Linked DNA regions of Homo sapiens. The protein of the gene in region 3 interacts with the protein of the main gene of each other region in a biochemical or structural test. Each region holds a gene or a part of one and is shown on either strand. Other genes may lie near its edges. The genes, in order: CASK, PICK1, PRKN, PARK7, RNF41, SEPTIN5 and UBE2V1.

The links.
Region 1: the proteins of PRKN (region 3) and CASK form a complex in vitro, tested with the Homo sapiens proteins (2 studies listed by BioGRID and IntAct, with this or other methods).
Region 2: the proteins of PRKN (region 3) and PICK1 form a complex in vitro, tested with the Homo sapiens proteins (3 studies listed by BioGRID and IntAct, with this or other methods).
Region 4: the proteins of PRKN (region 3) and PARK7 form a complex in vitro, tested with the Homo sapiens proteins (2 studies listed by BioGRID, with this or other methods).
Region 5: the proteins of PRKN (region 3) and RNF41 form a complex in vitro, tested with the Homo sapiens proteins (2 studies listed by BioGRID, with this or other methods).
Region 6: of the proteins of PRKN (region 3) and SEPTIN5, one has a biochemical effect on the other in vitro, tested with the Homo sapiens proteins (2 studies listed by BioGRID).
Region 7: the proteins of PRKN (region 3) and UBE2V1 form a complex in vitro, tested with the Homo sapiens proteins (4 studies listed by BioGRID).

Annotation. Positions count from the first base shown.
Region 1 is NC_000023.11:41,517,448-41,521,703, reverse strand, and holds part of CASK (peripheral plasma membrane protein CASK), read left to right. Parts: intron 1-1,107; coding exon 1,108-1,284; 3' UTR 1,285-4,256. UniProt on the Homo sapiens protein: Multidomain scaffolding Mg(2+)-independent protein kinase that catalyzes the phosphotransfer from ATP to proteins such as NRXN1, and plays a role in synaptic transmembrane protein anchoring and ion channel trafficking.
Region 2 is NC_000022.11:38,060,404-38,064,659, reverse strand, and holds part of PICK1 (PRKCA-binding protein), read right to left. Parts: intron 1-4,256. UniProt on the Homo sapiens protein: Probable adapter protein that bind to and organize the subcellular localization of a variety of membrane proteins containing some PDZ recognition sequence.
Region 3 is NC_000006.12:162,717,251-162,721,506, forward strand, and holds part of PRKN (E3 ubiquitin-protein ligase parkin), read right to left. Parts: intron 1-4,256. UniProt on the Homo sapiens protein: Functions within a multiprotein E3 ubiquitin ligase complex, catalyzing the covalent attachment of ubiquitin moieties onto substrate proteins. Substrates include SYT11 and VDAC1.
Region 4 is NC_000001.11:7,967,673-7,971,928, reverse strand, and holds part of PARK7 (Parkinson disease protein 7), read right to left. Parts: intron 2,585-4,256; coding exon 2,525-2,584; intron 1,036-2,524; coding exon 966-1,035; intron 1-965. UniProt on the Homo sapiens protein: Multifunctional protein with controversial molecular function which plays an important role in cell protection against oxidative stress and cell death acting as oxidative stress sensor and redox-sensitive chaperone and protease.
Region 5 is NC_000012.12:56,218,847-56,223,662, reverse strand, and holds the start of RNF41 (E3 ubiquitin-protein ligase NRDP1), read left to right. Parts: upstream 1-1,740; 5' UTR 1,741-1,903; intron 1,904-1,961; exon of another isoform or gene 1,962-2,072; intron 2,073-4,816. UniProt on the Homo sapiens protein: Acts as E3 ubiquitin-protein ligase and regulates the degradation of target proteins. Polyubiquitinates MYD88. Negatively regulates MYD88-dependent production of pro-inflammatory cytokines.
Region 6 is NC_000022.11:19,716,905-19,720,818, reverse strand, and holds part of SEPTIN5 (septin-5), read right to left. Parts: intron 3,600-3,914; exon of another isoform or gene 2,082-3,599; coding exon of another isoform or gene 2,001-2,081; intron 1,218-2,000; coding exon 1,121-1,217; intron 1,014-1,120; coding exon 927-1,013; intron 705-926; coding exon 581-704; intron 500-580; coding exon 365-499; intron 271-364; coding exon 153-270; intron 52-152; coding exon 1-51. UniProt on the Homo sapiens protein: Filament-forming cytoskeletal GTPase. May play a role in cytokinesis. May play a role in platelet secretion.
Region 7 is NC_000020.11:50,106,378-50,110,633, forward strand, and holds part of UBE2V1 (ubiquitin-conjugating enzyme E2 variant 1), read right to left. Parts: intron 2,735-4,256; exon of another isoform or gene 2,596-2,734; intron 1-2,595. UniProt on the Homo sapiens protein: Has no ubiquitin ligase activity on its own. The UBE2V1-UBE2N heterodimer catalyzes the synthesis of non-canonical poly-ubiquitin chains that are linked through Lys-63.

The DNA.
Region 1 (4,256 bases), on a different chromosome or scaffold from region 3:
TTTGACTCACAAAGTTCCCTAGTGTCAAGGTTGAACTTGCCCTTTGGGAGTTCAGCATGACAAATATGACTTGCGAAGATATAGAGGCAGACTTCTTTCTGGTGGCTCTTAAGAGACCCCTGTCTTGAAAGAACTGCCACTCTGTAGCAGAAGCTATACTTGCATGACAAAGCTGGGACCCTAAACTCCCTCCTCCTGTTGGATCCCTCTTACAAGAGTTCTTAAAATCTGTGGCAAGCTGCAGCTTAGGGAACATCCTTTGTTGCAGCAAACCTCCCTAGAGTTCAGTACTCCCTAGAGTTCTCTTCCTTCTGTTTTTTTCATAAGAGATATGAGGACCTACGAACAGTGACATTTGTCTAGCCACTTCTAATGCAGACCAATTTGGGGGGATTCATCAGATGCCAGGTGCTGTTTATTGGGGAAACAGCCTTATTCCAGCCATTATTTGTAACACTCAAAGATCTTTTGCCTCTGGCATCAGCTGCTATTGAGTGAGGGCCATTATATGTAATTGAATTCCTAGAACGTGTGGCACCTTTAAGTAGAAGAGGAAAAAATACAACTTAATTTGTCATCCAAGGGCAGGGACTTGTTGGTGCAAACACAGCTGGGCCCTGAGGCCTGGCTCCAGTGAGTGTGGAGGACCAAGGGGACGGGGGCAAAGAGCTCCAGCCTTGCCACCGTAGCCCTCTCGCCAATTGGGAGAGTGGCTTGAGGCTAGGGCGGGGGGCTTCCTGCTGGCCTGTTTGGGCCACCATAGCCACTGTAACCCACACCTGGCATGGCCCTACCAAGCCTGACTCTGGGGACAGGCACAGCTAGGCCTGAGTGGGGGTGGCATGTTTCCTGAAGAGTATCTGTTTTCTCTGGTTCGTCTGCTTTGTCATGGACCCTCTGTTGCATGTTGAGCAATCACTGTCTCCTCTGTCATGGAGCGGACTTGGCCTCATGCTGGCATATGGCATATCAGGGTCTGGCCTTGACTGTTTCTGACACTGGGATGAACAAAAATGTGAAAAGAGAACGAATCCAACTGATTTCTCTCTTCTGTTTGCTTTTCCCTCCTCTCATGCCCACCCCTACCTCCATCTCATCACCATTTAGGATGAATCTCTTCAGCGTCTGCAGAAGGAGTCTGACATCTTACAGAGAACATATGCACACTACTTCGATCTCACAATTATCAACAATGAAATTGATGAGACAATCAGACATCTGGAGGAAGCTGTTGAGCTCGTGTGCACAGCCCCACAGTGGGTCCCTGTCTCCTGGGTCTATTAGGCCTCTCCCCAGATATCTGAGCATAACTGGGAGCACCTCATTTGTGGAAAAGCCTCTTTGTTATCGGCCTTGTGTCAGCAGGTCATGGTCCCTAGAGACTACCTAGTTGTAGTGTGACCTACATTTATAATTATTGTCATGTCCGAATAGATAGGAGGAGAAAAACAATTACACACTAATTTAAAGAGACAGTATCTTTTTTAATCAGTTCTCCTAAACTTTAATAAAATGTATCTTTAAATGTATGTATTATTCAATCCTTTGGAATGTTATATTTTTGGAAATCATAGCTTTTTATTTCCAAGGCCCCTAAAAACTGCACAAAATAGATGCTGCTTTCTATAATCTATTTTAATAATAATAAACAATGATTCTGTTACCTTGACTGGGGGTGGAACACTACATTCTTTTTAGAGTCTGATTTTATGGATTGGAATATTGGGATATCTTTCTTTCCTTTATTTATTTGAAATAATTAGTGTAGTGATTACAAAACAGTCATAAATTTTTAAAGGCCTTTTTTCTCTCTTTTTTTTTTTTTAGAATAGTATTTTTTTTTAAGTCCTTTATGTAACATCCAGATAATGTGATACTGTCTCTTTGAAGCACCCTGTAAACCTTTTAGAGATTTGAAGTTGGGTCTTGACTCTTAATGCATGTGGACAGTCGCGAGCGTTTATGCTGTCGGTGTGTCTGTGTTGGACAAAACAATCTGTAATCTACAGCAAAGTACATTCTACATTCCGTTCATGGGGCACACCCAGGGGAATAAGAATAAAATGCTATTATGACTAAGTTGTAAACCTATGCACATCCCTTGCATTTTGGGCAACTTTATAAAAAAAAAGAAACTGATTTTTATTAATAATAATCATGTAGTGAAATGTGTTTGTAATTTTGTCTCAATTTAATTTGTTGTAAGGTGGGGTGGGGGGAATTGCTGGTTTCACCATTTCAGATCTGTGTTGTCTAAGAGTATTAACGTTTTAATTAAGCAAAGAAATGATTTTTAATCTGTATGTAATTGTTTTAAAGCACCCATTTTAAGAGAAAATACTGTGCAATGAAGAAACCAGTTTAGGCATTTGCTATAAACTGAAATATTCCAAAAGAATCATCTATAACAGCCCTGTAAATTCCTTTAAAATGATAACTAACAGGACAGTTTGACCAATTTTTTTTAAATATACTTCCTTTTATGTGTTCAATAATTAAATGCCTTTGGGTCCTTCATTTCATTATAGATTTGTTCAGGCTTCCAAGCTGATAATCTTTACAATTGTATAATTTGTTAGATGCTCATTGAACCTTTGAAGGCCCAGGAGTGAGTATCAGTTGGCAGGGTGACAAAGTAGCCTGCCAGAGCACAGCTGGACCACGTCTGACTCGCACAGAGCCATGCGCCCAAGGGCCACGGGTGTACTGGAGGCCACCTGTGGTCTCTCCTTCCTCTTGCTGTATCCCTTGGCACAGGGGAATCATCTGTCCTTGTTGCTTTAGAGACATTAACCATCTCATAACTCTTCCATGAAGTCACATTCTTCCAATACAGGAGATTCGGGCTGGGGTTCTCAGACTCTTTGCCAGAGGTCAGTAGAATGTTTTTCATTAGCATGTGAGGGTGTGAAGTGCTTATATTAACCTGTGATCCTTGAAAACATACCATCATTTTTTGCTTCTTGTAGGTTAGATGGCCTTGTCACTTTGTGCCTTGGCAGGATGTGCAGGGTGTGTTCTGAGCTGAACAGCTCCTCTTAAAGGACCAAACAGAGAAGGCATTAGTATACTTCTTTTACATTGTCAACACCATACCCGCCTCCGCCCCCCACCGCCTATTATTAAATGGTGGCGATTTTTTTTTTTCTGATGTTGTTCTTTGCCAGTGACCAGATGAGTCTGCAACTTACTAACAAGGTATTGAGTGAACTACTTCTGTATGGGCCCCACAGTGGGGTGACCAAGCCACCAAACCAGAGATAAGCTCAACAGTGGTCTCACACTAGATAGAGAGAGAAACCTTCAAAGAGTTGGGTAGGGCTGTGTTAGAACTGATTCGAATCTGATAGATGCCAAGGCCAGACAGTCGTTCCTGGTATGGTACTGACCACAATTTCGGGCTCTTAGTGTGAAGGTGCGCACTCTACCTCTTTTCTGGTGAAGCACAAAGACAACTACAACTAACACATGGGAAACAGAAACTTCCCTCCCTCTAGTGGAAACCCCCACGCCCCCACTTGCCCTTTGAGCCCACATCTCCAGAGATGCTGATGATGCCTGTCTTAAGCCATCTGCCATATTTATAAAGGTGGATTAAGCAGAGGAGGAGAAAAGCAATGCCAACTTAAATGTCTGTGGCCCCACAATTCACAAGCACTGTAGCACTCATCCTCAGTGGCTTTATACGTCCTCTGAGAAGCACACAGGCAGGCATCATTCTTGCCATCATTCCGATGGTGAAATCCCTGCATGCAGAACTCATTGACTTCTCAAAGATGTTACCTGTTCCATTCCACTAATACATGTCTTCTCTAAAGCAGTGTCTTTATGACCTAGCTGCATATACTTACATTTCTGAATTCAGAGTAATTTCAGTACATTGCTGCTGCTGCTGCTGCTGCTGCTGCTGCTGCTGCTGCTGCTGCTGCTGCTACTGCTACATTACAATTGTCCACTAAGCAATCAGAGAAAATTGCTAAAAGCTTCTTTACTGCTTCCATTCCATCAGCAGAACCTTTTTTTTTCTTTCTTTCTTTTAAAGACCAGAATGAATGTTTAGAGTACTAAATCTTATTAGTGGTCAATTGAAGTATTGGAGAGCCACATTTTGAAGGTTCTCTCCCCCACCCAACTCCATTCCCCACAGCAAGAAAGGGAGTGTTTTTATATGTTGAATTCTTTGTTAAAAAGATGAAATGTCCTGATTTTCCAGTCACAAGACAGTAATTACTTTGCACATACAGCATATCCCATTT
Region 2 (4,256 bases), on a different chromosome or scaffold from region 3:
CCTCCCGAGTAGCTGGGGTTACAGGCATGCGCTACCACGCCCGGCTAATTTCGTATCTTTAGTAGAGACAGGGTTTCTCCATGTTGGTCAGGCTGGTCTCAAACTCCCGACCTCAGGTGATCCACCTGCTTTGGCCTCCCAAAGTGCTGGGATTACAGGTGTGAGCCACCGTGCCCGGCGGCATCAAATGATTTTTGACAAGGGTGTCAAGAACATTCAATGGGGAAGGACAGTCATTTCAACAATGGTATGTGAAAAATGAAGTTGACACTACTTAACACCACATACAAAAATTAACTCAAGGCCAGGCGCAGTGGCTCACACCTGTAATTCCAACACTCTGGGAGGCCAAGGCAGGCAGATCACCTGAGGTCAGGAATTCGAGAGTAACCTGGCCAACATGGCGAAACCCCATCTCTACTAAAAATACAAAAATTAGCTGGGCATGGTGGCAGGCGCCTGCAGTCCCAGCTACTCAGAAGGCTGAGGCAGGAGAATCGCTTGAACCTGGGAAGTGGAGGTTGTAGTAAGCCGAGATCATGTCACTGCACTCCAGCCTGAGCAACAGAACGAGACTCTGTCTCGAAGATAATAATAATAATAATAATTAACTCAAAATTGTTCAAAGACCTAAATGTAAAAGTTAAAACTATAAAACTCAGAAAAATGCCTAGTCCAAAACCTTCACGACATTGGAGTTTACAGTAATTTCTTGGATGTGACACCTAAGATCCAAGTAACAAAAAATAAACAAATTGAACTTCATAAAAATTTTAAAACTGGTGCATCAAAATACACCATCCAGTCTGGGCAATGTGGCAAAACCTTGTCTCTACAAAAAACACGAAAATTAGCTGGGCATGGTGGTGTACGCCTGTAGTCCCAGCTACTTGGGAGGCTGAGGTGGGAGGATCGCTTGAGCCTGGGAAACAGAGGCTGCAGTGAGCTGAGATCCCGTCACTGTACTCCAGCTTGGGCAACAGAGTGAGACACTGTCTCGAAAAAAAAAAAAAAAAAGAACAGAGAAGAGAAGAAAAGAAAGGCAACCCACAGAATGGGAGAAAATATTTGCAAATCACATTTTTGATAAGGGATTAATATCCAGAATATATGCAGAATTCCTAAAACTCTTTTTTCTTTTTTTCCTCTTAGCCGATTGTGCTTTGTAGAGAATTCTTAAAACTCAACAACAAAAACCAAACAACCTAATTCAAAAATAGACCAAGGGCTGGGCACGGTGGTGCGCACCTGTAATCCCAGCATTTTGGGAAACCGAGGTGGGAAGATCGCCTGGGCAATATGGCAAAACTCTGTCTCTACAAAAAAAATACAAAAATGAGCCAGGCATGGTGGCGCGTGCCTGTAGTCCCAGCTACTCGGGGGTCTGAGGTGGGAGGATCGCTTGAGCCCAGGAGGTTGAGGCTGCAGTGAGCCATGATCGCACCCCTGCACTCCAGCCTGGGCGACAGAGCAAGATCCTGTCTCAAAAAAAAAAAAAGTTAAGATGGTAAATTTTACCACAATAAAAAAATAGAAAAAAGCAGAACAGAGAATACAGAAAGCAGGATGTCATCATCGAGATACATGACAAGAAGGACATGGTGTTCCCGATGACGCCCTCTGAGGATCTGGCACAATAAACAAAAGCCTGTGCCTGCAGCTACCATCACGACTCCTCCCAACACCAGGGACAAAAACAAAGTCCTCAAAGTTCTCACAGATCAGAAATAAAACACATCACAAATAAAGGATCACCAATAAGAATGGCAATAGCCATGTGACAGCAAAGGACAATGTGACAAGGCCATCACACTTCCACACAGGAATTACTGTCAACCTTGACGTTCATTCTTGAATCGAATGAGCCAAAATGTCAACTGAAAGGAATATGGGAACCACAATGACCAAAAAAGACAGACCCGAGGTCTCAAAAAATTGACATCCCACGTGCCCTTTCTCAGAAAGCTACAGGAGGATATTCTCCACGGGAGATCAGGGAGTAAACCAGGAAAGGGACCCCCAAGATGGGGGAATCCAAAGAGAAGGGGCAGGGGCAGGGGGAGGGCACAAGGGGGAGAGACTACAGGGCGGAAAACAGACTGAAGAAAATGGGGCCGGGCATGGTGGCTCACGCCTGTAATCCCAGCACTTTGGGAGGTCGAGGCAGGTGGATCACTTGAAGTCAGGAGTTCGAGACCAGCCTGACCAACATGGTGAAACCCCGTCTCTACTAAAAATACAAGAATTAGCCAGGCGTGGTGGCACGTGCCTGTAATCCCAGCTACTTCGGAGGCTGAGGCAGGGGAATCACTTGAACCCGGGGGCTGGAGGTTGCAGTGAGCCAAGATCACGCCATTGCACTCCAGCCTGGCAACAGAGCAAGACTTAATTTAAAAAAAAAAAAAAAAAGATGGGAAATTGTGGAAAACATACTGAGAAAACAAGGAGAGTGCAAATGAAAAAAACAAAACAGGAAATTACCCCCACCCTCTCAAAACACAAGAACAGGCTGAATTAAGAAAAGAAACATAGATTCCTCAGAAAGTTAAACATAGAGTTGTTTTGACTAGAATGAGGGCTCCGCAAGAGTAGGATCTTTGCTTTCTTATTCTTTTATCCCTAGTGCCTACAACAGAGCCTAGGAGGCATCTGGAAAAGATTTCCCGAACAAAATCTCCGTTGTACTAATATTAATTTAGCCAAAAATAGAAAAATAACTATGTTGGAAAGGTGGGATGAGAGGAAACAGACTGGTCATGGGAAGAACTAAATTCTCATCTACCAGACGAGGCAAAGTCAATAGATATTTACAGGTGATAGATCAAGAAACAACAGGATAGGCTGAGCACGGTGGCTCACGCCTGTAATCCCAGCACTTTGGGAGGCTGAGGCGGGTGGATCACTTGAACCCAAGAGTTTGAGACAAGCCTGGGCAACATGGCAAAACACCGTCTCTACAAAAAATACACAAAAATTAGCCAGGTTTGGTGGCACGTGCCTGTAATCCCAGCTACTTGGAGGCTCAAGTGGGAGAATCATCTGAGTCTGGGGAAATCAAGGCTGCAGTGACCCATGCTTGCACCACTGCACTCCAGCCTGGGCGACAGAGTGAGACTATTGAGAAAAATGGAAGCCCATGCATGAAGAGACAGAGAAAGCCGGGTGAGGTGCCCAGGGGAAGGGCAGTGGATTGCTATTATTTGATACAGGGCTTTTAATGCTCTTGACTTGGTAGAGGCAAGTCATATGGCACTTTGATAAAAACAAAATTGAATTTAAAAAAATCAATTCTATGATGATGATGATTATTATTATTTTTGAGACGGAGTCTCACTCAACTGCCCAGGCTGGAGTGCAATGGCACGATCTCGGCTTACTGCAACCACCATCTCCCGGGTTCAAGCGATTCTCCTGTCTCAGCCTCCCAAGTAGCTGGGATTACAGGAACCCGCCATCATGCCTGGCTAATTTTTGTATTTTAGTAGAGACAGGGTTTCACCATGTTGGCCAAGCTTGTCTGGAAGTTTTCACCTCAGGTGATCTGCCCACCTCAGCCTCCCAAAGTGCTGGGATTACAGGTGTGAGCCACCGCACCCGGCCAGTTCTATTATTTTATTGGCTGGTGGTTCATGCCTGTAATCCTAGCACTTTGGGAGGCTGAGGTGGGTGGATCGCTTGAGGCCAGGAGTTCGAGACCAGGCCGGCCAACATAGCTAAAACCTCTCTCTCCTACAAATACGAAAATTAGCTGGGCATGATGGCGCACACCTGTAATACCAGCTACTCGGGAGGCTGAGGCATGAGAATCGTTTGAATCCAGGAGGCAGAGGTTGCAGTGAGCTGAGATCACGCCACTGCACTCCAGCCTGGGCAACACAGTGAGACTCTGTCTCAAAAAAAAAAAAAAATCAATTATACTATTTTATGATGTCTGTTCATTCTAAGCAAACTTGCACCTGAGGTAGGTAGAGGGAGGTGGCGAGAGGCTGAGCAGACACACGGCCAGGAGGCCAGGCCTGGGGGAGGTCTTGCTAATGCCTCCTGGGTCACAGGAGGCCGAATGGCTCATGAAGGAGGCAGCACTGTGAGCAGAAGCAAGACCAGGTCGATCCTGGGAATCTGTCTTCGAGGCCTACAAGCGACTCCTGAGCAAGATCCTCACAGAGGCCAGTTTCCCATCTGCCACCAGTGAGAGGGTTAGAACAGGTATTCCCAAGGCTACAGCAAGGTCACTGACTTGGATGAGCCACACAGTG
Region 3 (4,256 bases):
AGCCCAGCGAACACCTTGATTTTAGTCCCTTTTAGTCACTTTGGGGCTGGGCACAGTGGCTCACACCTGTAATCTGACAACTTTGGGAGACTGAGGTGGGAAGATGACTTGAGCCCAAGAGTTCAAGACTAGTCTGGGCAACATAGCAAGATCCTGTCTCTACAAAAAATAAAAAATAAAAAAATTAGCCAGGCAGGTTGGCATGCACCTATAGTCCCAGCTATTCGGGAAGTTGAGCCCAGGAATTCAAGGTTGCAGTGAGCTGTGTTTGTGCCACTGCACTCCAGTCTGAGTGACAGAGGGAGATCTTGTCTCAAAAAAAAAAAAAAAAAAAAGTCATTTTGGACTTTGGGCCTCCAGAACTGTAAGAAAATAAATTTGTGTTTAAAAGTCACTAAACTTGTGGTAATTCGTTACAGCAACAACAGGAACTACACAAAAACTAATACAGTAATCTGGCCATGCCCCGATAGTGTATAATATTAAAGAAAGTGAAATTATGGTTCTAATGTTTGTTTTCCTGAAAACACTACTTTTATGACCAGAACATGAGCATAGTATGCTACCATTGAAAATTTATCTGACATAATTTGACACAAAAGTAGAATCCGTTTTAAATGTATTACCACAATGCATTTGTCCTGAAGATTGTGTTTATAACACATTGCTTTTCAGTATTTCCAAAACATTATACGCTTAACGCTGAAGATCTGAAAAACACAATCATAATAAAAGAAAACATCCCACAACCCAAAGATATAATTTGCCGGTATACTTCCTGATATTTTTACATATACAAATGGCCCCTAATGCTATCTAGTTTCCAGTTATGGTAACTAAATGGTCACATTAACACTTTTTAAAAAAGATCTTTCCCAATTATTAAGAACTCACACATATTTGTCCATCTTAGATCACTTAATCATCCTATCATCACTGTTTTAAGACAAAAAAAATCTTATTACTTCTAGGAACTTCATCTCAAATAGCATCCCCATCCCCTCTCTGACTGACTTTACCTGTATAACTTGCATTCTATTAAGCATAAGATGATTAAATTGGCTGCAAAAGCCAGAAGGGACTTTTAATGAATTTACACACTAAGAATTGTGACAACTATGTCTTGATCCAATATGAAAGTTTCTTAGATGTTGAATCTCCATTAAAAATTATTCCAGAGGCCAGGCGCGGTGGCTCATGCCTGTAATCTCAGCACTTTGGGAGGCCGAGACAGGTGGATCACGAGGTCAGGAGATCGAGACCATCCTGACTAACACGGTGATACCCCGTCTATACTAAAAATACAAAAAAAATTAGCTGGGCATGGTGGCAGGCGCCTGTAGTCCCAGCTACTCGGGAGGCTGAGGCAGGAGAATGGCGTGAACCTGGGAGGCGGAGCTTACAGTGAGCCGCGATCACGCCACTGCACTCCAGCCTGGGCAACACAGCAAGACTCCGTCTCAAAAAAAAAAAAATTTATTCCAGAACTGTCCCCCACAAAACAAAATAGAGTTCTAAAATGGGCAACAATGCCCAGAAATTGCCAGAACATAAAAAACAAGCACAGAGACTTGGTATAAAACTCAAGACACTGAGAATAAGATTATTTGGTGACTTCTTTGAAATCAAGATGATATAAAAGTCAATACCTATGTCAGAAGCTCTGCATGTAGTGAGACACGGCAGATGCCACACACACATACACACACACACACACGAGAAAGGGACAATGAATAATGGAGAAAACTCTAGAGAGGGACAAAAGGAAGAAATTCCAATTCCAATCATAGGTTGAGCATCTCACAGATTCCTAAATGAACAAGAGTGGAAAGCCCACAACAGATCTCTACGAAATATCACTCTCTGTATCATATGATTATGTCTAAATTGACTGCCCAATAAAACACATATACTTCCCATCTGATCCTATGAATTCAGACATATTCATGTAAAAACGTCTTTATATATTGTCACATGTAATTATACAAATTTGGTGAATATCAACTGGATCATGCAGTCTACATTTGTCTGTGGTCAGGAGCCCAGAGAAGCAGCACCTCAGAGAACATGACCTCACTTGTGCTTAAATCTGTACCTCTCACACTCTGGGAACTCACCAGAGAGCTATAAAGGACTTTCAGGAGAAAGGAGGTCGAATTTCAAGGGTGGAGAGAAGACCCAGGGCACAGGGAATATTATTCTTAAATCTGTCTAATTCTCCAAGGAGCAAACCTAACTTGCCCCCATCCTCTAGCTGCCCAGAGTTCATCATTCCTCAATTTTGTTTCAATGGAAAAAAAAAATTGTAATCAGGACTGGATTTGCCTGGAAGGAAAATGCAGAGCCAGAGACTACAAAGATTTCCATTGCAGACAATTCCCAATCTAGGGAATGTCTCCAGTAGGAGCTGTGGTGAAGCCTGGTCTGTTCCGGTCAGGCCACTCCTGTGATAACCCTCAGAAACATTACAACCCACAGTCAAGCCCTGTGGCAACAAGTAAGGAAGAAATTCACCTGTTGTTCAGACAACAGCTGCTCCTTTGAGCTGAAGAATGAAATATTAAATTCCAGCTTCTGAGAAAATCAAGGAATGTGGGTAAGAAAAAAATGAGGGGACAGAAAAGAGGGAGTGCAGGTAGATGTCAAAAAAAAAAAAAAAAAAAAAAAAACTAAAGGTTGACCTCAGAAACACAGATATTACAAATGTTCCTTCCTATTTCTCCATTTTATTAATACGAGCAAGTTTCAGGTGTCTACTTCCTATCATTTCATGATCTGGAAAATGGATCTACTCTGCGGGTACAATAAGCTTTAAAAATGACTACGCAGTTACAGAGGGCTTCATCACAAGATCTTATTTATGCACTGAAACTCCAAAAATATCTCACAATAGGAGTAACTGGCGTATTCAACAATTATGTAAATAAATAATAAAAAGTCTCAATCAGGACACCAATATTAACTCCCTAATCACCAATTTTCCCCCTCATTTGATGAGGGTAGGAGTAGAGATGTGCAAAATGGGTGAGGCTGCTAACTATTGAACATTCTCTCCTCCAAAGTTAAGGGCTCTCATGTGAAACTTTATGGGGGCCTCTGTTCAGGTCTTACAGTAAAAGTAAATTGGAGAGAATCATCAAGAAGCCATCAATACTCTTAAAAATACACACATCTGTCCATAGATGGTCTTTTTTTTTTTTTTTTTTTTTTTGAGACGGAGTCTCGCTCTGTCGCCCAGGCCGGACTGCGGACTGCAGTGGCGCAATCTCGGCTCACTGCAAGCTCCGCTTCCCGGGTTCACGCCATTCTCCTGCCTCAGCCTCCCGAGTAGCTGGGACTACAGGCGCCCGCCACCGCGCCCGGCTAATTTTTTGTATTTTTAGTAGAGACGGGGTTTCACCTTGTTAGCCAGGATGGTCTCGATCTCCTGACCTCATGATCCACCCGCCTCGGCCTCCCAAGGTGCTGGGATTACAGGCGTGAGCCACCGCGCCCGGCCCATAGATGGTCTTAATATGTGCCTAGGTATATGAGTCATGCAGATATCTAAGAGGAAGAAACTATTCTGCACTATTCTGGGTGACACGATATCCACAGCTCTGATGACATTGTTCTCTCCACACAGAGAAGAAACTATAAATAGAACCCTAAGCATCATGTTCCACATATCAAAGAAGGAGATACAAACTATTTTTGGAATACAAATAAAGCTTTAGTAACATGAAATAAAACACCTGTCAATAAGAGACATTAATCTATTCTACAAAAATAAGAACTTTTTAAAAAGAAATATGGCCTTTAATCAGAGATGATGTAATGACATATCAAATCAATGTCAACACCCTGAGAAAAGCCATCTCCTACTGCACAATTACCCTGCCATTCTCAGTCGAAGACTGTCCTCTATTAAACATTATCTGGACTTCTTTCCTTTGTTTTATGGAGTGAGTTTATAAACGCTTGTTCTCCGTAACTAGTGATTTCAAGTATTCTGTTTTATCTAAGAAGTACAATGAAGGTCATGAGAAGTCCTCTATTAACACTTTATCTGGACTTGCTGGCACTAGTGTAACTATTTTCTACAACGTTCTATTTCATAACTTTCTAGTACTGCCACAGACATCTTTCTAAAATACAACCTGTTCATAATGCTCTTTTGTAGATAATGGTTCAGTGACTCCTCCCTATCGCCAACTTTAAACCTACCTCCTTGACAAAGCTTATCTGGTGTGCCTGCAGCCTCACCAGATACCTTT
Region 4 (4,256 bases), on a different chromosome or scaffold from region 3:
GAAGTCTCGCTCGTGTCCCCCAGGCTGGAGTGCAACGGCACAATCTCGGCTCACTGCAACCTCCGCCTCCCGGGTTCAAGCGATTCTCCTGCCTCAGCCTCCCGAGTAGCTGGGATTACAGGCGCCCGCCACCACGCCTGGCTAATTTCTGTATTTTTAGTAGAGATGGGGTTTCACCATGGTGGCCAGGCTGGTCTTGAACTCCTGACCTCAGGTGATCTGCCCGCCTCAGCCTCCCAAAGTGCTGGGATTACAGGCGTGAGCCACTGCGCCCGGCCCTGACAAATATTTAATGAAGACCTATACAACAAGGAAGGTGCTGGCAAAAATTACAGCATGGGAAAAAACCAAAATGGCAGAACATCATCTGATAGGAAAGCAACAAGAATGGATCTTAAAATGGTTATGAGAAAATAAAATATTACTAAGGTACAAAGAGAAGAGGACATCTGCGAAGCACCAAATGTCCTTGTTCTAAATTATGTGGCAGATAATGCGGTGCCCAAGATCACTCGGTACTGAGACAATCAGAAACGCCCGAGAAGCCAGCGGAAAGCACCATGGGGGCTTCTGAATTTGCAGGGCAAGCACAGGACAGAGCTGCTGTGTTGATGTTTGATGGATTTTGCTGATTGTGTGCTGGCACAAAGACTTTCTGGCACAGAGACTTGCTGTAACAAGCTGTTTACTGAATTCCAGAGGGCCTTATTTTCCTCCGAGGTCAACCAAACACGGAAAACACTAAGTTTCACAGCATGTAGACCAAAGGCATGGAGAGGCAGAAAACAGAACAATTGTCCTCATCTCTGAAATGACACCAACTTCATGCCACCCAAACTAAATACACCAACACAGATGCCCTGCATGCTTTATGAAGGGGAAGAGCTATTTGGAATCAAACCATCGAATGAAAGGCTACCCCACCCACCAATGACGCTGCAACACAGGCTGCCCCTGCACGTCACCTGCACAGATGGCGGCTATCAGGCCCTTCCGGTTTTCCTGCTCCTTCAGTATCTCCTTCACAGCAGCAGACTAGTGAAAAGAAAACCAAAAATACATAAAGTTATCATTAAGCCACTAACCAATCACTCACTAGGAAACTTTGGAAGAATTTAATTTTAGTTTAAACCACAAGCTCTCTGACCTATTTTCCAACAATATTTCTAAATCATTGGTATAAAAATGATCAAAATGTGTCTATATTATATTCTTAAACCCAAGCAAGGCATTTCTCATAAGAGAAACGCACTCTTCCACATTTAAAGATCAGAAGAAGCAATTTGACCCTTGCCATTTTGTACTCCAGGGAGAAAGAAATGGGAGGGAATGTGGTGTTTTGGGTGTTTTCAGATGGCAGAGAGAGGAACAGAATCTAGCAGGAAAAGATCCCTTGTGTCTGACACAACCCACTTCTTACTTCTGGCAGCCCCAACTCTGCCTGCAGGTGTGCCCCTCACCCTGGCCTCTGACTCCTCACATACGACTTAAAATGAGGAACAATGGTCTCTGCTGATGGCATTTGCCATTCCTGCTGGCAGCCCTAGCCCCACAGCTTCCCCCAGTTAAGACTTTGAGTAGACAATTTGCCCTTCTCAAAACACAAAATCTGATCATTCTTCTGCTGGTGGAAAAAAACCAAATCATCTTACTTTGGACTGTATTCATCGACATCTGTTCATAACGGTCCCACCAATTCAGCTTACTTCCATGGCAACATTTTTTTTTTCTGATAAGACAGGTTCTTGCTTTGTTGCCCAGGCTAGAATGCAGTGGTGCATTCACAGCTCACTGCAGCCTCAAATCCCTGGCCTCAAGTCATCCTCCCACCATAGCCTCCCGAGTAGCTGGGACTACAAGTGTGCACCACCGTGCCCAGCTAATTAAAAGAAAATTTTTTGTAGAGATGGCGTCTCGATGTGTTACTTAGGCTGGTCTCAAACTCCTGGCCTCAAGCAATCCTCCTGTCTCAGCCTCCCAAACCACTGGGATTATAGACGTTGAGCCACTGCACCTGACCTCCATAGAAAATATTAAAAATGTTTTCTTGAGGTCGGGAGTGGTGGCTCACGCCTATAATTCCAGCACTTTGGGAGGCCGAGGTGGGCGGATCACGAGGTCAGGAGTTTGAGACCAGACTGGCCAACATGGTGAAACCCCGTCTCTAATAAAAATATAAAAATTAGCAGGGCATGGGGGTGCATGCCTGCAATCCCAGCTACTCAGAGGCTGAGGCAGGAGAACTGCTTGAACCCAGGAGGCGGAGATTGCAGTGAGCCGAGATTGTGCCACTGCACTCCAGCCTGGGCCACAGAGCAAGACTCTGTCTCAAAAAAAAAAAAAAGTTTGAGTTAATGCTATAACACCATTTTGTTAATTTTAGTTGTTTCTATTTTTTTTTCACAGCCTCCTCCCGAAATATTTGAATAATAACAAAATTAACAGAACATAAGCAGATGCTGAAATTCTTTAGTTTTTCCCCCCCCCCAGCTTTATTGAGGTATAATTGAGTAGAATTTTTTACCTCAGATAAATTCTGTGCGCCCAGATTACCTCCTGGTAGAACCACCACATCATATGGTCCCTGTAACAGTTTAAAACATAAAGAAAACAAAAACATTTCATTTCAACTGTGCATTAAATTGACAGTCCAATAATACTTTCCTATTTTAAATGTGGGAAGTACAGGAGATAGCCTATCTGCCAATAGAACAGTTAAATAAATTAAGGTGTATCCACATGACGGAATGGTGTTTTAACTAGCAAAAAATGCAGAAAACCTGTATGTAGTGACATGCAAGGATGTCCACGCTGCAGAGTAGCAGGGGTAGTATAATCTCCTTCCTGTAAAAGACAAGGATATATGTATTTGTGTGTAGATGTATGCGTGTATGTGTACAATCACCACAAGCACCCCACCCCACATATTCTGTATACAGGTAGTCACAGACAAAGGAAGACACTCTAGTTGCTAATGGGAGTAGTGTGGGATGGGGCAGAGGGAGAATGAGAACAGGACATTTAACATTTTGACTTTATATGTGTCTATATTGTTTGAATTATTGTTCAACAAGAATGTACATGAACAACTTAAAAAATTAATAGAAAAACAGGCTGGGCACACTGGCTCATGTCTGTAATCCCAGCACTTTGGGAGGCCAAGGCAGGAAGATTACCTGAGCTCAGGAGTTCGAGACCAGCCTGGCCAACATGGCAAAACCCCCATTTCTACTAAAAATATGAAAATTAGCTGGGTGTGGTGGTGCACACCTGTGGTCCCATCTACTTGGGGGGTTGAGGCAGGAGAATCGCTTGAACCTAGGAGGCAGAGGCTGCAGTGAGCTGAGGCTGCACCACCGCACTCTAGCCTGGGCAACAGAGCAAGACTCTGTCTAAAAAAACAAATAAAATTAATAGAGAAACAAATTTTAAGTAAAAGGCACAAAAAATTTTTCTTAACTTTATGAAAAATGTAACGGGGGGAGAATTTTAGTATCCCCCCCAAAAAATCCTAGAAATCAAATTAATTTCAAACTTCCTGAAATTACAAAACGGAAATTGTTTTAACAATACTTTAGGACTTTTTATTTATTTATTTATTTTTCTTTTCTTTTTTTTTTTTTTTTGAGACAGAGTCTTGCTCTGTCACCCAGGTTAGAGTGCAGTGATCTCAGCTCACTGCAACTTCCGTCTCCCGGATTCAAGCGATTCTCCTGCCTCAGCCTCCCAAGCAACTGGGATTACAGGTACCCACCACTGTGCCCGGCTAATCTGTGTATTTTTAGTAAAGATGGGGTTTCACCCTCTTGACCAGGCTGGTCTCAAACTCCTGACCTCGTGATACACCCATCTCGGCCTCCCAAAGTGCTGGGATTACAGGCGTGAACCACTGTGGCCGGCCAACAATACTTTAGTACTTTAAAAAGTGGTTAAAAAAAATCTAGTCATTAAACAAATTACAAAATAAAAATGTATTATGTATTTAGTGCAACCTATAAAATTTTTTTAGAGAGAAGCCCTCACCTCTGTCACCCAGGCTAGAGTGCAGTGATGCAATCGTGGCTCACTACAGCCTTGAACTCCTGGGCTCAAGCAACTCTCCCACTTCAGCCTCTGCAGGAGCTAGGACTACAGGCATGCACCACCACAGCCAGCTAATTTTTTTTATTTTTGTAGAGACAGGGTCTCGCTTCATTGCCCAGGCTAGTCTCAAAACTCCTGGGCTCAGGTAATCCTCCTGCCTCAGCCTCACAAAG
Region 5 (4,816 bases), on a different chromosome or scaffold from region 3:
CTTGGTCAAGGTCTCTGGGAAAAGTGGCATTTACACCAGAGACAAAAGGCAGGCTCACCCTTCTTGGAAGAAATGGAACCTGCGACAAAGAGAGAAACATTGTTAGTCCCTTTTTTTTTTTTTTTTGAAACAGGGTCTCGCTGTGTAACCCAGGCTGGAGTGTAGTGGTGCAATCTTGGCTTACTGCAACCTCCCACCACAGCCTCCGTAGTAGCTGGTACTACAGGTTCGCACTACCACCCTCGGCTAATTTCTGTATTTTTTTTGTAGAGACAGTTTCGCCATGTTTCCCAGGCTGGTCTCGGACTCATGACCTCAAGGGATCCGCCCACCTCGTCCTCCCAAAGTGCTAGGATTACAGGCGTGAGCCGCTGCACCTGGCCATACTACTCTTCCCCGCCCCGCCCCACCGCTCCACCCCGGCAAAGGAGTCTTGCTCTGTCGCCCAGGTTGGAGTGCAGTGGCGCGATCTCGGCTCACTGCAATGCAACCTCTGCCTCCCGGGTTCAAGCGATTCTCCTGTCTCAGCCTCCCGAGTAGCTGGGATTACAGGCGCCCGCCACCACGCCCGGCTACTTTTTTTGTATTTTTAGTAGAGACGGGGTTTCACCACGTTGGCCAGCCTGGGCTCAAACTCCTGACCTCGTGATCCACCAGCCTCGGTCTCCCAAAGTGTTGGGATTAAAGGCATGAACCACCGCGCCCGGCCATACTACTCTTATCTTACTTATCTCAGAGTCCCGCTAGAAGACAGCAGAAAGGAGGCCTGAAACTTTAGTTCCTTTTGGGACCTGTCAAATTGTCCACAAAAGGTAGCTAGCTCTGTATTGTTGTGTATAAACAAATTACATAAAGATATGTGTGTATGTGTGTATTAATGTGCATTAGCATTTGCTTAGCCAATGTCCACAATAAATACCATACTATTTAATACCAGATTAGTCTAGGAAGTCATGTGATTGTAATGCCTTGGTTTGCTTAATTAATCCCTTATCTGCTCACGGAGCTCTTTAGGCTCCACATTGACTTCCCTTGGATCCCACGTTCTCTACCGCCCACATCCCCAACACCACGGTGTTGTAAGCTAAGGAAATCAAACCCCAACTCAGGAAGAGGGAAATTTTTTCTCCCTTCCTTCCTCTTAGGTGTTTCAGGGAACTCCACAAGTGTTCGGGGAGCCATCGTGGATACGGCAGGAGAGCGCCTGGGAGAGAGGCAGACAACCCGTTGAGCACCCCAGATCTAAGCTTTGCGGTCAGACTCCCTCACTCCCCACCCCGCGGCCGCCTTGTTAACTGCAATATCCATTCCCATGACAGGAGTCAAGGGGTTACGAAGCTCTGGGATGCTGACCAGGGCTCTGGAAAAGGGAGAGGGGCCGGACCCGCAGCAGGTCACGCTGCAGGCCTGCCTCTCCGCAATGATCTCGCAACAATCTGCGTCAGCTCTAAGACACAAGTCACCTGCACCCCTCCAAAGCGAAGCGTGGCCGGCCAGGCCCACACGTTTTTGCCGGGAAGAACATAGAGTTCTCCCTCCTAAATGGCTACATAGTCCTGGCTGGGACCATATAGACTCTAGACTAGACTTCCTGTCTAGAGTGGAGGCCTGGCCAGCCTTCGTCCCTCCTCGTAGGCAGCTCCTGGCTGCTGGTGTAGGGGCTGAGTTAAACAAAGAGGCGGGGTTTGGTGACGAGCTTCCGCCGGGTTGCGTAGCAGCGGTGGGCGGGGCAAAGGATCCGTCTGAGGCGGCGACGAGTGGTAGGAGTCTTCTTTCCCCTCCTTCCCCTTTCCCTTCCCTTCCCGGGAGAGGCTGGGACCCGGCACCAGGGCAGTACTGTGGCCGCTGCGGCCTCAGCTCCGACTGGGTCAGGTTGCGGAGACTCCAGGCCGCTTCCAGGGCGGTGCGTACTGCGCCTGCGCGATCTTCCACCTAAAAGAGGGTGTGGGAGGGGAGGAGGTGATGTCCCAGGGGTATTGGGGCGGGGGGTTGAAATAACTGGGGTTCAGGAGGAGGGATGGTGGTAGAGATAAAAATGTGAGAAGGGAGCAGCACTGGCGAGGAGTCGGGAGGTGAGAAGGGGGCTCTGGAGAACGGGTTGTTGGGGAAGGTCCATTGGAATAGGGGAGCTTTGAGAAGTGCGGGAGGGGGCCGGGGCTAGCTGGAGGACCGGCACCTGCAGAACTGGGGGAACAGCGTGGTGTTTAAATGGGCAATGATTGACGGGCCAGAAGGGGAGGAAGGGAGCATTCCGGGGGCCAGCCTGGGCAGGGGCGGTGGAACCTAAACCCCCGCCCTCGAAGCGCCATAGCTTGGCTCCTCTCCCATGCCTTGTCGTTGGCAGCCTTGTCCTCTCATTCCTTCCCCGCTCCTCACCCCCTCCCAGCCCTCCATGAAGGAATCTCACATTCTTCACATCCCTGCGCTTGGTTTGCAGCCTGGCTCTCTGGCAGGGTTCACACACCACACACTGGAAGGCCTTCCCTAACTCAGGACTTTGGGAAATTGGGTAGTGGGGAGGAGGGGGCTAGAGGAAGAGCAGAAAGCCAGGAGGGGTGAAGGCGTTTTGCTTGAGGGATTGACAGACTGCTTCCCCGTTCAGAAACTTCATTTCATTTAATAGCAAGTGGGGCTGTTATTGAGGCCACTGTTCTTGGGGACTGGCCCGTGATAGTGTTATCCCTTTCTATACAGGGGTTTTAGAGTCTGACAATAGGGCAAGAGACTGATAGTGTTGTTGGCTGATAGTTTTGCCCCAAATAAGAATGTAGTGGACTAGTGGTAGGGAATGTGAGTGATGCAATGTTAAGCCGACCGACCTGTGGCTAGCCCTGCCTTCTAGTAAAAAGAAGGAACAAGCTTTTGTCAAGCATTTCCTCTCCGACTCTCAGTACTCTAAATTTATTTTGCATTCTTGTTTTTTTTTTTTTTTGAAACGGAGTCTCACTCTGTCACCCACGCTGGAGTGCAGTGGCACAATCTCGGCTCAGTGCCACCTCTTTCTGGGTTCAAGCGATTCTCCTGCCTCAGCCTCTTGAATAGCTGGGATTACAGGTACCTGCCACCATGCCTGGCTAATTTTTTGTATTTTTAGTTGAGATGGGGTTTCACCATGTTGGCCAGGCTGGTCTCAAACCTCTGACTGTAGCCGGGCGCGGTGGCTCACGCCTGTAATCCTAGCACTTTGGGAGGACGAGGCGGGCGGATTGCCTGAGCTCAAAAGTTCGAGACCAGCCTGGGCAACACAGTGAAACCCCGTCTCTACTAAAAATATAAAAAATTAGCCGGGGCATGGCTGCATGCACCTGTAGTCCCAGCTACTTGGGAAGCTGAGGCAGGAGAATTGCTTGAACCCAGGAGGCAGAGGTTGCAGTGAGCTGAGATTCCACCACTGAACTCCAACCTGGGCAACAGAGTGAGACTCTGTCTCCCCACACCCCCCGCCAAAAAAAACAAAACAAAACCCTGACCTCAGGTGATTGGTCCATCTCGGCTTCCCAAAGTGCTAGGATTACAGGCATGAGCCACTGCACCCAGCCTTATTTTGTATTCTGTTGCTACAAATAATCTTACTTGAGGATAACAGTATTCAGTATCCTTTCATATTTATTTATTTATTTATTTATTTATTTATTTATTTATTTTTGAGACAGGGTCTCACTCTGTCACCCAGGCCGGAGTGCGGTGCTGCGATCTCTGCTCACTGCAACCTCTGCCTCCTCGGCTCAGTTGACCTTCCCCCTTCAGCCTCCTCAGTAGCCGGGACTACAGGCACTCACGCCATCATGCCCGGCTAATTTTTGTATTTTTTGTAGAGACAAGGTTTCACTATGTTGCCCAGGCTGGTCTCAAACTCTTGGACTCAGGTGATCCACTCACTTCGGCCTCCCAAAGTGCTGGGATTACGGGTGTGAGCCACTGCGTCCAGCCTCCTTTCGTATTTATTATTTCATTTGATTTGCAGACAGTATGTATAAGGGGTGCGCGCGTGTATATACACATATATACACACACACACATATATACACCTTATATTACGCCGGGCGCAGTGGCTCACGCCTGTAATCCCAGCACTTTGGGAGGCCAAAGGTGGTGGATCATATGAGGCCAGTTTGAGACCAGCCTGGCCAACATGTTGAAACCCTGTCTCTACTAAAATATAAAAATTGGCTGGGCGCGGTGGCTCACGCCTGTAATCCCAGCACTTTGGGAGGCCGAGGCAGGCAGATCACGAGGTCAGGAGATCAAGATCATCCTGGCTAACGTGGTGAAACCCTGTCTCTACTAAAAATAAAAAAAAAAAATTAGCTGGGCGTCCTGGCGGGCGCCTGTAGTCCCAGCTACTTGGGAGGCTGGGGCAGGAGAATGGTGTGAACCTGGGAGGCGGAACTTGTAGTGAGCCGAGATCGCATCACTGCACTCCAGCCTGGGTGACAGAGCCAGACTCCGTCTCAAAAAAAAAATAAATAAATAAATAAATAAAATAAAAATTAGCCTGGCATGGTGACACATGCCTGTGATCCCAGCTACTCAGGAGGCTGAGGCAGGAGAATTGTTTGAACCTGGGAAGTGGAGGTTGGAGTGAGCTGAGGAGATTGCATCACTGCACTCCATCCTGAGCGACAGAGGAAGACTCCATCTCAAAAAAAAAAAGAAAAATAGGCCAAGCATGGTGGCTCACGCCTATAATCCCAGCACTTTGGGAGGCCGAGGCGGGCGGATCACAAGGTCAGGAGATTGAGACCATCCTGGCCAACATGGTGAAACCCCGTCTCTACTAAAAATACAAAAATTAGCTCAGCATGGTGGCACATGC
Region 6 (3,914 bases), on a different chromosome or scaffold from region 3:
CTCAGGGAACTGGTATACATGGATCCCAAACTTGTCAATCTCCTCCCGGATCTGTGGTGGGGCAAGGACCATCAGATTTGAGGCCAGACAAGTCCCCCTGGTACTCTCAGCCCCAGGGCCCTGGCCAGGCCCCTGTGCGACGGCAGGCTCACCCGCTCCTTCAGCTTCCGGATCTCACTGGGGACAAGACAGTCAGCTTTGGCGATGAGAGGCACGATGTTGACCTTCTCATGCAATGCCTTCATGAAACCCACATCCACTGGCCGCAGCCTGCCGAGAGCAGCCAAGGGTGGGCATAGGCACAGCCAGGGGGCCATATTGTAGGGGCTGCACTCCCGAGCCTGGCCCCAGGACAGCCACACACCCATGCCCGAAGGGGGAGATGAAGTATAGGCAGCAGTGCACTCGGTTGTCTTGGATGTTCTTTCGGTTGAGGCCGCTCTCATCACGGAAGTACTGCTCAAACTGCTGGTCCACATAGTCGGTGATGGGCTTCCAGCTGTGGGCAGGAGGGAGGTGAGGCCAGGCCTCGAGTGCTGTGGCCGCCTAGGCAAGGCCTTTCTCAGCAGGCCTCACTCACCACTCGGTGTTGTTGACAGCGTCCCCGAATCCCGGCGTGTCCACGATGGTGAGCTTCAGCTTGACTCCCTTCTCCTCAATGTCCACCGTGTGTTTTAGAATCTCTACCGTCTGGCTGATGCGCTCTACGGGGAAGGGGCCACTGGAAGGGCCTCTCCAACCCTCAGCCCCTCACCCTTGGCAGCCAGGACCCTCGTCCTCATCCATCTTGGTGCCTTGGCCCTACCCCCAGGGGACCCACACCGCGAGAACAGAACAGTGGGAGCTGGACCTGAAAGGGAGTCCTTGGAGAGGTCCCATGGAAGGGGACTGGGGATCAGTGCCAGGGCCTCCTGGGGGCCACTCACCCTCAGCACTGAGCAGCTTCCGGTCCTTGTACAAGTCTGTCAGGAAGAGGCTGTGGACCAGTGTGGACTTCCCCAGGCCTGACTCACCTGCACACAGGTACAGAGAAGGAGCTGCGTTAGGTCTGGGGCTCCAACGACAGAGCTTGGCTGGCCAGTGACCCCAGCCACTCCCCCGAGGAGCCTGGCCCACTCACCAGCCACCATGAGTGTGAAGTCAAAGCCTTTCTTCACCGACTTGCGGTGCACCTGGTTGGGCAGTGTGGCGAAGCCCACGTACTGCTTGTCAATGTCCTGGGGACAGGATGGAACAGGGTAGGGACACAAAGGTTTCTCCAGAAGCCCAATACCCTGTCTCTTACCAAATGCGGTATGAGGAGACAGCAGAGGGTACGGTTCCCAGGGTGGGGCATTTCGTTGGCAAAAATAAGGGGAGGGCCCGTGGGCAAAAGCCTGGAGATAAGAAGGCAGGCGAGGTGGTGGCAGGAGAAGGCACCCCTGGCCCCAATCCCAGGGAGGGCTCTGCAGGGACCGACACTGTATTTATTCCGTGGGGAGATGTCAGGCCGCAGCAGGCACAGGCGATGTCCTCCCTCCTCGGGCAGAGGGCAGCAGGATTGGGACCCCTGGGACACACTCAAGGCCCTCCATAAGCCGGAGAAGCTGGGGGCCTCGACACTCACCCCTCCGGAGAGTGCCAGGGGGCGGGAGGCCCCACCTGGCCCGGATCCAGCCGCGGGGGCGGCGGCAGCGGCGGTGGCGGAGCAGCGCCTATTTATAGACCGCGGCGCCGAGCCTCCCCCGCCCGCGCGCCCAGGCGCCCAGCCCCCGCAGACCCTTGGGGCCCCTGGAGGGGTCCCACGGCCGCATTCTCCGCCGCGTTTTGGAGTCGCGTGAGGTGAGGCCTGGACAGGGCACGTCGCCCCACCGTGGGGCCGCGGACCTGCGAGGCCGCTGCGGAGGGAAGGGCTGAGCCTAGGCGCTGGCGGGCCGTGGCGCGCGGGGACGGGGACCCCATGCCGAGTCCCGGAGCCCGCGGGGTCACAGACCCACGTTCCGCCCTCTCCACACACGCACCTTGAGCCGCCTCTGGGCCTGGGTCCGCGGCGACAGCAGCTGCTCCACCAGGCGGTCCTGGGGCGCTGCCAGCGAGTCCATCGCGGCGACCCCCCCAGGCCCGGGGGCACGCTCGGACCCCAGGCCCGGTCAGGCCGCCAGAGCCCGGCGACAGCGAGGGACCTTGGCGCGGCTCTGCCTTAGGCTGCGTTGTCCACCCCGTTTTGCGGACGCGGGAAGTGAGGCCTGGACAGGGCACGTCGCCTACCCGGGGGATCGTCGACCCCCGAGGCCGACCGAGCCATCCCCCTGACTGGGCGAACTGGCCCCAAGCTGTGGCGGCGTCGCAGTCCGGGCAGGCCCCGCTCCCGCACCCGAGCCAGAGGCGGGGCGTCGCAGGCGCCCGCGGAGCGCGCGGCGGGGGGCGGCAGAGACGGCCCCGCCCGCCGTCGCCGGGAAACGGTCGCCTGGAAATTGGGCCGCGGGCGGAGCCACCCGAAAGCGGCTGCGGAGGGCAGGGCTGAGCCGAGGCGCGGTCGGGCCATGGCTCGCGTGGACCGGGAGCCCTGCCGCGCCCCCGGGGCCTCAGTCCGGGCTCCAGGACAGCAGGAGGGGACGACCGGGTCCTGCACGCGGGCCGGGGCGGGCCGGGAGTCGGTAGCCACCGCGCGTCCCGCCCCCAAGAGGTGCTGCGCGGCTTCCGCCCGCCAGAGGGCGCCGGAGGCCGCTCCCGGGACCCACGCGCAACAGCGCGGGTACCCGCCCAGTTCAGGGCCCGCCGTCTTCTCGCAGACTTGCCCGAAAACCTCCCGGCGGCGTCTCGACGCCCCAAGTGCCCACAGACACGCCGCGCCCTGCACCCCTCCCCAGCCCTGCTTGGGGCTGACCTCCCCCGTGCGTGCGTGCGTGCGTGCGCGCGTTTGTGTGTGCGCGTCCGTGCGGGTGTGTGTGTGTAATGTGTGTGTGTGTAATGCCTGCGTGTGTGCGCGTGTATACATGCGTGTATGCGTGTGTGTGTACGTGTGTGCATGCATTGGGTATGTGCGTGTGCGCGGGTGTGTGCATGTGTGTTTGGTGGACTCTTTCCCAAGACATTCGGGGGACCGGAGGAGGGCAGAGCCCACCTTTTCTGAAGTCCAGCCTGCCTGTCCCCTAGGAGGCTTAGGGTGGACAGAAGGGAAGGGAAGGGAAAGGAAGGGTGCAGGCTGCCGGAGTACTGGAGGTCCCTGCAAAACTTGGAAGCCCCCGCCAGCCTGCTGAATAAACGCCGGCCACCCATGCGCTGCCCTGCAGCCCTCAGGTGGCCCTGCCCTCAGAGACAGGGGTGGGGGTGGGATGGGACCCATCTCCCACGTGCTTCTGTGGACATTCCCTTGCCCTCTGAGCATCCTCACCAGCTCTGACCCACAGGATTGGAGGGACTGGGAGCTCCTGCCAGCCGGGCCTCCCTCCCATGTGGCTACTCCAGGGACTGCGGGGGTCTCCCGAGCTCCGCTCTGTGGGCCACCCACCTCCATGACCCCAGTAGAATCCCAACAGGCAAGCCCAGCGGAGCAGGACATGGGGCCTGGAAAGGTTCCAGGGTAGGACTGGTCAGGCCAAGCCCCTGCACATTAGAACATTAGAAGCTGGAGGCCCCAACCCCACCCCACCCCACCCGCCACCAGCCCTCCCTTAGGCTCTCCTGGCTGAGAGACCTCCTCCACTTCCTGTCCAGGCCCTGGTCCTGTTGTGGGGCCTGGACCACTGGCACCTGGGGAGGAGGGGCAGGCCCACAGCTGGGAACAGGAGAGCCTTTCATCCCAGGGAAAGGGGGCAGCTCCAGGCCCCCCAGCTCTACCAGTGCATCCCTCAGTCCTTGCTGCCAGAAAGCCTCCTCACTGGCCCCAGCCTTCCATGGCCCTGACCTGCAGGAAGCCTCTAGGCTGAGTCCCA
Region 7 (4,256 bases), on a different chromosome or scaffold from region 3:
TAATGCAGTAATCTGAAACACAGCAACATATTAATATATTTGTGGTACAAAAAGGATTCTGAAGTCGTTTAAAACATCTTTTGGGAAAATCATGGCCACCAAGCAGCAGCTACCACAGCATGTCAATCTTGGAAAACCCTGGCCTAGGTCTTGAATTAAAATGGTAGAGCTGGCTGGGCGTGGTGGCTCACACCTGTAATCCCAACACTTTGGGAGGCAGAGATGGGTGGATCACCTGAGGTCGGGAGTTCGAGAACAGCCTGACCAAGATGGAGAAACCCCGTCTCCACTAAAAATACAAAATTAGCTGGGCGTGGTGGCGCATGCCTGTAATCGAGCTACTCAGGGGGCTGAGGCAGGAGAATCACTTGAACCTGAACCTGGGAGGCAGAGGTTGCGGTGAGCCAAGATAGCACCATTGCACTCCAGCCTGGGCAACAAGAGTGAAACTCTGTTTCAAAACCAAAAACAACAACAACAACAACAACAACAACAACAAAAAAAAAAAAACAAAAAAAAGGTAGAACCTCAGAGGTTTCTCCTGAAAAGAAAGCTGCTAGTTAAAAATGGTTTGGTTGCCCATTCAGGGAAGACAGTGAACTGAGCTAGGAATCTGATGCTGCTCCCACTTCAGAAAATGAGGAGGTATGGAAGGTGATGCACTGGGATTCAACGTCCCTGAAAACTGGACATAGAGCCATAAGCAAGTAACTTTTATTTCTGAGCAACCGCCCAAGTGTAGTCTGGCTGTCTAGTTAGCCTGCCCAGGAGATCTGTTCTTCTCCTTCTCTAGAGCAATGGTTCTCCAAGTTAGTCCCCAGACCTCATCGCAAACTCGCTAGAAATGTACATTCTCAGGTCTTCAGCCCAGAATTCCTGAATCTGAAACTCCAAGGTTGGGCCTAAGAATCTGACAAGCCCTCCAGGACTCTGAGGTATACTAGTTTGAGATCCATTGCTCTAGGGGAATTCTAGGGAAAGAATTAGTAGCAAGCTGTCATTCTTTACAGTCCAGCCACGTGACAACAGCTAGTGACAGAATGCAAGACCCTGTGTTCTGCTGCTAGGGTCAGTGACCAAGACCAAGCATCAGATTTTCTTTGACAAAGGGGGAAACAAGATGTGGGAAATGAGTCAGGACAACTGGAGAAGGGGAGGATGGTTAATTCTACGATCAAGTACCTCTATAAATACCACCAAATAAGGATAAGAGTTTCAGTTTTTTGAAAGGCTGAATAGCCACTTTTGCTTCTGCCCTATCGGATACATTGTTTCTCCACAAATTGTCAAATGTATCCATTTGGCTACATCAAAGAGATTCTGAATTAACTCACTGCAACATTCACAAATATTTACTGAGTACCTACTATTTTGTCCAGAACTGTGCTGGTGCTAGGGACACAACAGAAGTTGAGATAGAATCTTGCCCTAGTGAAAAGGCATAGAAAATATGCAACGAAACAACACTTCAGGTAAGGTTAAGTGCTTTAGAGAAACAGAACAAAACAAGAAGCTGTGACAATGACTAAAAAACTATTGAATGGAGTGCTCAGGGACGGCCTTTCTGGGTAGCTGCGACCTGAAGAACAGCAGTCAGGCCCATGAAGATCTGGGGACAGAGCAAGATCAGAGGTGTGTGACACCACATGAAGTCAAGGCGGCAGGGCCTTGTGGGCCATGGAAAAGGGATGGGTTATTCTGTAATAAGAGCAGTGGGAAGGGCTTGCTGAAGGGGAGTGGCAGTTTCTATTTTACGTCTGTGAAAGATCATTCTGTCTCCTGTATAGAAAATGGAAAGGGCAAGACTGAAAGCAAGAGGCTTTTTCCATCTTCCAGGCAAGAGAAAGACGGTTCTGGTTAGATTAGGATGACAAGAGTGGAGACAGAAAGGAGGATTTGGCATTTAGTTTGGGGTTACACCTACTGGACTTGTGACAGGGTGGATGTGAAGATGAGGAAAGACTACTACTTGAGAGGTCACTGCCATCTACCCATGAATAAGCTAATCAGCCAAGGCAGAAATAACAGACATGCCAATGGCTGAAGATGCTTGCGAGGCCTACCTCAGAGAATAAGAAATGGGGGCTGGAAGAACGATCATCCGGCCAAGAGCACGTGTCCTGAAGCAACACCATCCCAGAGCACCCAGGCTCTGCACCTCAGGCTAGTCACTCCTCTCCTGGCCTGTTTCCTCACCTTCACAATCGATACCTGCCTCAATGGGCTGTTGTGACAAGTGAGATAATGTAGTTAATACAGTGTCTAGCACTTAGTAAACCCAAGAGTGCAACTTAAAAAGAAGTCTGATGGCTTGCATGTAAATAAGGATGAGGTACTACTTTGTACCTGCCATGATGGGGCTCCAAGCCCAAGAGGTGTGAGTCATTCAGTATAAAATATAAGCAAGAGCTTCCTGAAAAAAGGACCTCACTCTCCTTGGACAGCACATAACCCAGAAGAGGACAAACAGTGGCCAGAGATGCTATAAAAAGGGTTCCTGAAACGGGTAGCAGTAGACACTTCTTACTAAAGCCCTTTCTCTCTCCAAGATTAAACACTCCAAGACTTAGGAAGAACATATCCCTAAATCCATGCCTTTTCCATTTCCTGCAGGCTGGTGAGGGAACAGGAGTTAAAAATGCCTGGGCTCTAGTCCGAGCATCACCAGTCTCCCTTGGCTTTTGGCTCCTCCCTCAGTAATGTGGGTGGATACTGCCCCTGGCTGGTGACCAGGCTGTGGAGAGTTAGATGAGACAACATCACAGGTAAGTCGAAGTCTATGGGACACTCTAAAGCACTATCCACAATACAACAGTAATAGTATTCAAACATTTACTTTGCCAAATGTGCTGCTCTGAACTTCACTGTGCCCCTTCAAAATTAAGCAGAGGATTCCTGACTTCATATTTTGTATTCTACTTTTACCAAATTACTGCAGAGCTACAATTTGTGGGGAGGTGGGAGGGATAGAGATATGAAGAGAAAAGAGAATGTGGTGGGGGAAATAGAGTGGTTTTCAGTTAACATGAAGGGGGAAAATCATGATCATCAAAATTAACCTTGGTAATCCCTTAAGAAAATAATAGCTTGCAGCCCGGCACGGTGACTTACGCCTGTAATCCCAGGACTTTGGGAGGCTGAGACGGGCGGATCATGAGGTCAGGAGTTTGAGACCAGACTGACCAACATGGTGAAACCCTGTCTCTACTAAAAATACAAAAATTAGCCAGGCGTGGTGGCGCGTGCCTGTGATCCCAGCTACTCAGGAGGCTGAGGCAGGAGAATCGCTTGAACCTGGGAAGCAGAGGTTACAGTGAGCCAAGATCACGCCACTGCACTCCAGCCAGGTGACAGGGCGAAACTCCGTCTCAAAAAAAAAAAAAAAAAAAAAGCTTGCACTAGCCCAACAAAGCCAGTTTCCCCTCCATCACTGGAGCAGGCTGCTATTTCTTTGGCTGAGCACAATATGAAGCTGTTCTTTGAATGTAGGGCCCATGTTGTACAAAAGGCACTTAATTACAATTGGCATAAGATGCTCACACAGTGAGACATACAGGAACTGAGAAGAACTAAGGGACTGTGAGTTTTCATCCATTTCCAGCTCTCTCTGGGGAAGACTCTTGAATGGAAGGGAAGACTAATCTCTGCTGCCCACATGGTTAAGTTTTTATAAGCTGAATGTGCATATGAGGCCACTCCGATGTATGCAAATTTAAAATCATGCCCCACCAGGGCTTACCCCTCTGGCACTCATTTTCTGATTAAATGTCAGGGAAGCTCGTGGGCTGCTGAGTGAGAGGAAGGGCCTGGCAACCAAGGGCCACTATTTGATGTGCTGCAATCCTGGCCAAGGCAGGAGGAAGTCACCCGTCATAACATGGGGATTCTGAGGATCTGTGGTGGGCTTTTCACAGTTCCACCCTCTAAGACATATGTAGATATCACACATTGCAGAACCAAAGGAAGTGGGAAGGTGGTGTAGCCAAATGCTGAAAGCAGTGACCATAAAAAACTAAGTTCAGCCCTTACAGGAACTCAAAGGCTTCACAGCTGTTTCCTGGCAACCGGAGGCACAGATTAATCAAGAGCCTCACTCTAAACCTGACTAAGGAAGGCCTCTGGGCCCTGACCACACCTGGAAGACTTCTCAGGGTTAGAAAGCAGAGAGGCCTGTACACTCATTTTAGTTTACCCCAAGTAAGGTCTGCTTTACTCTTAGCACCCTGCACTCTTTTCACTGCCTAGGGACGAAGGTC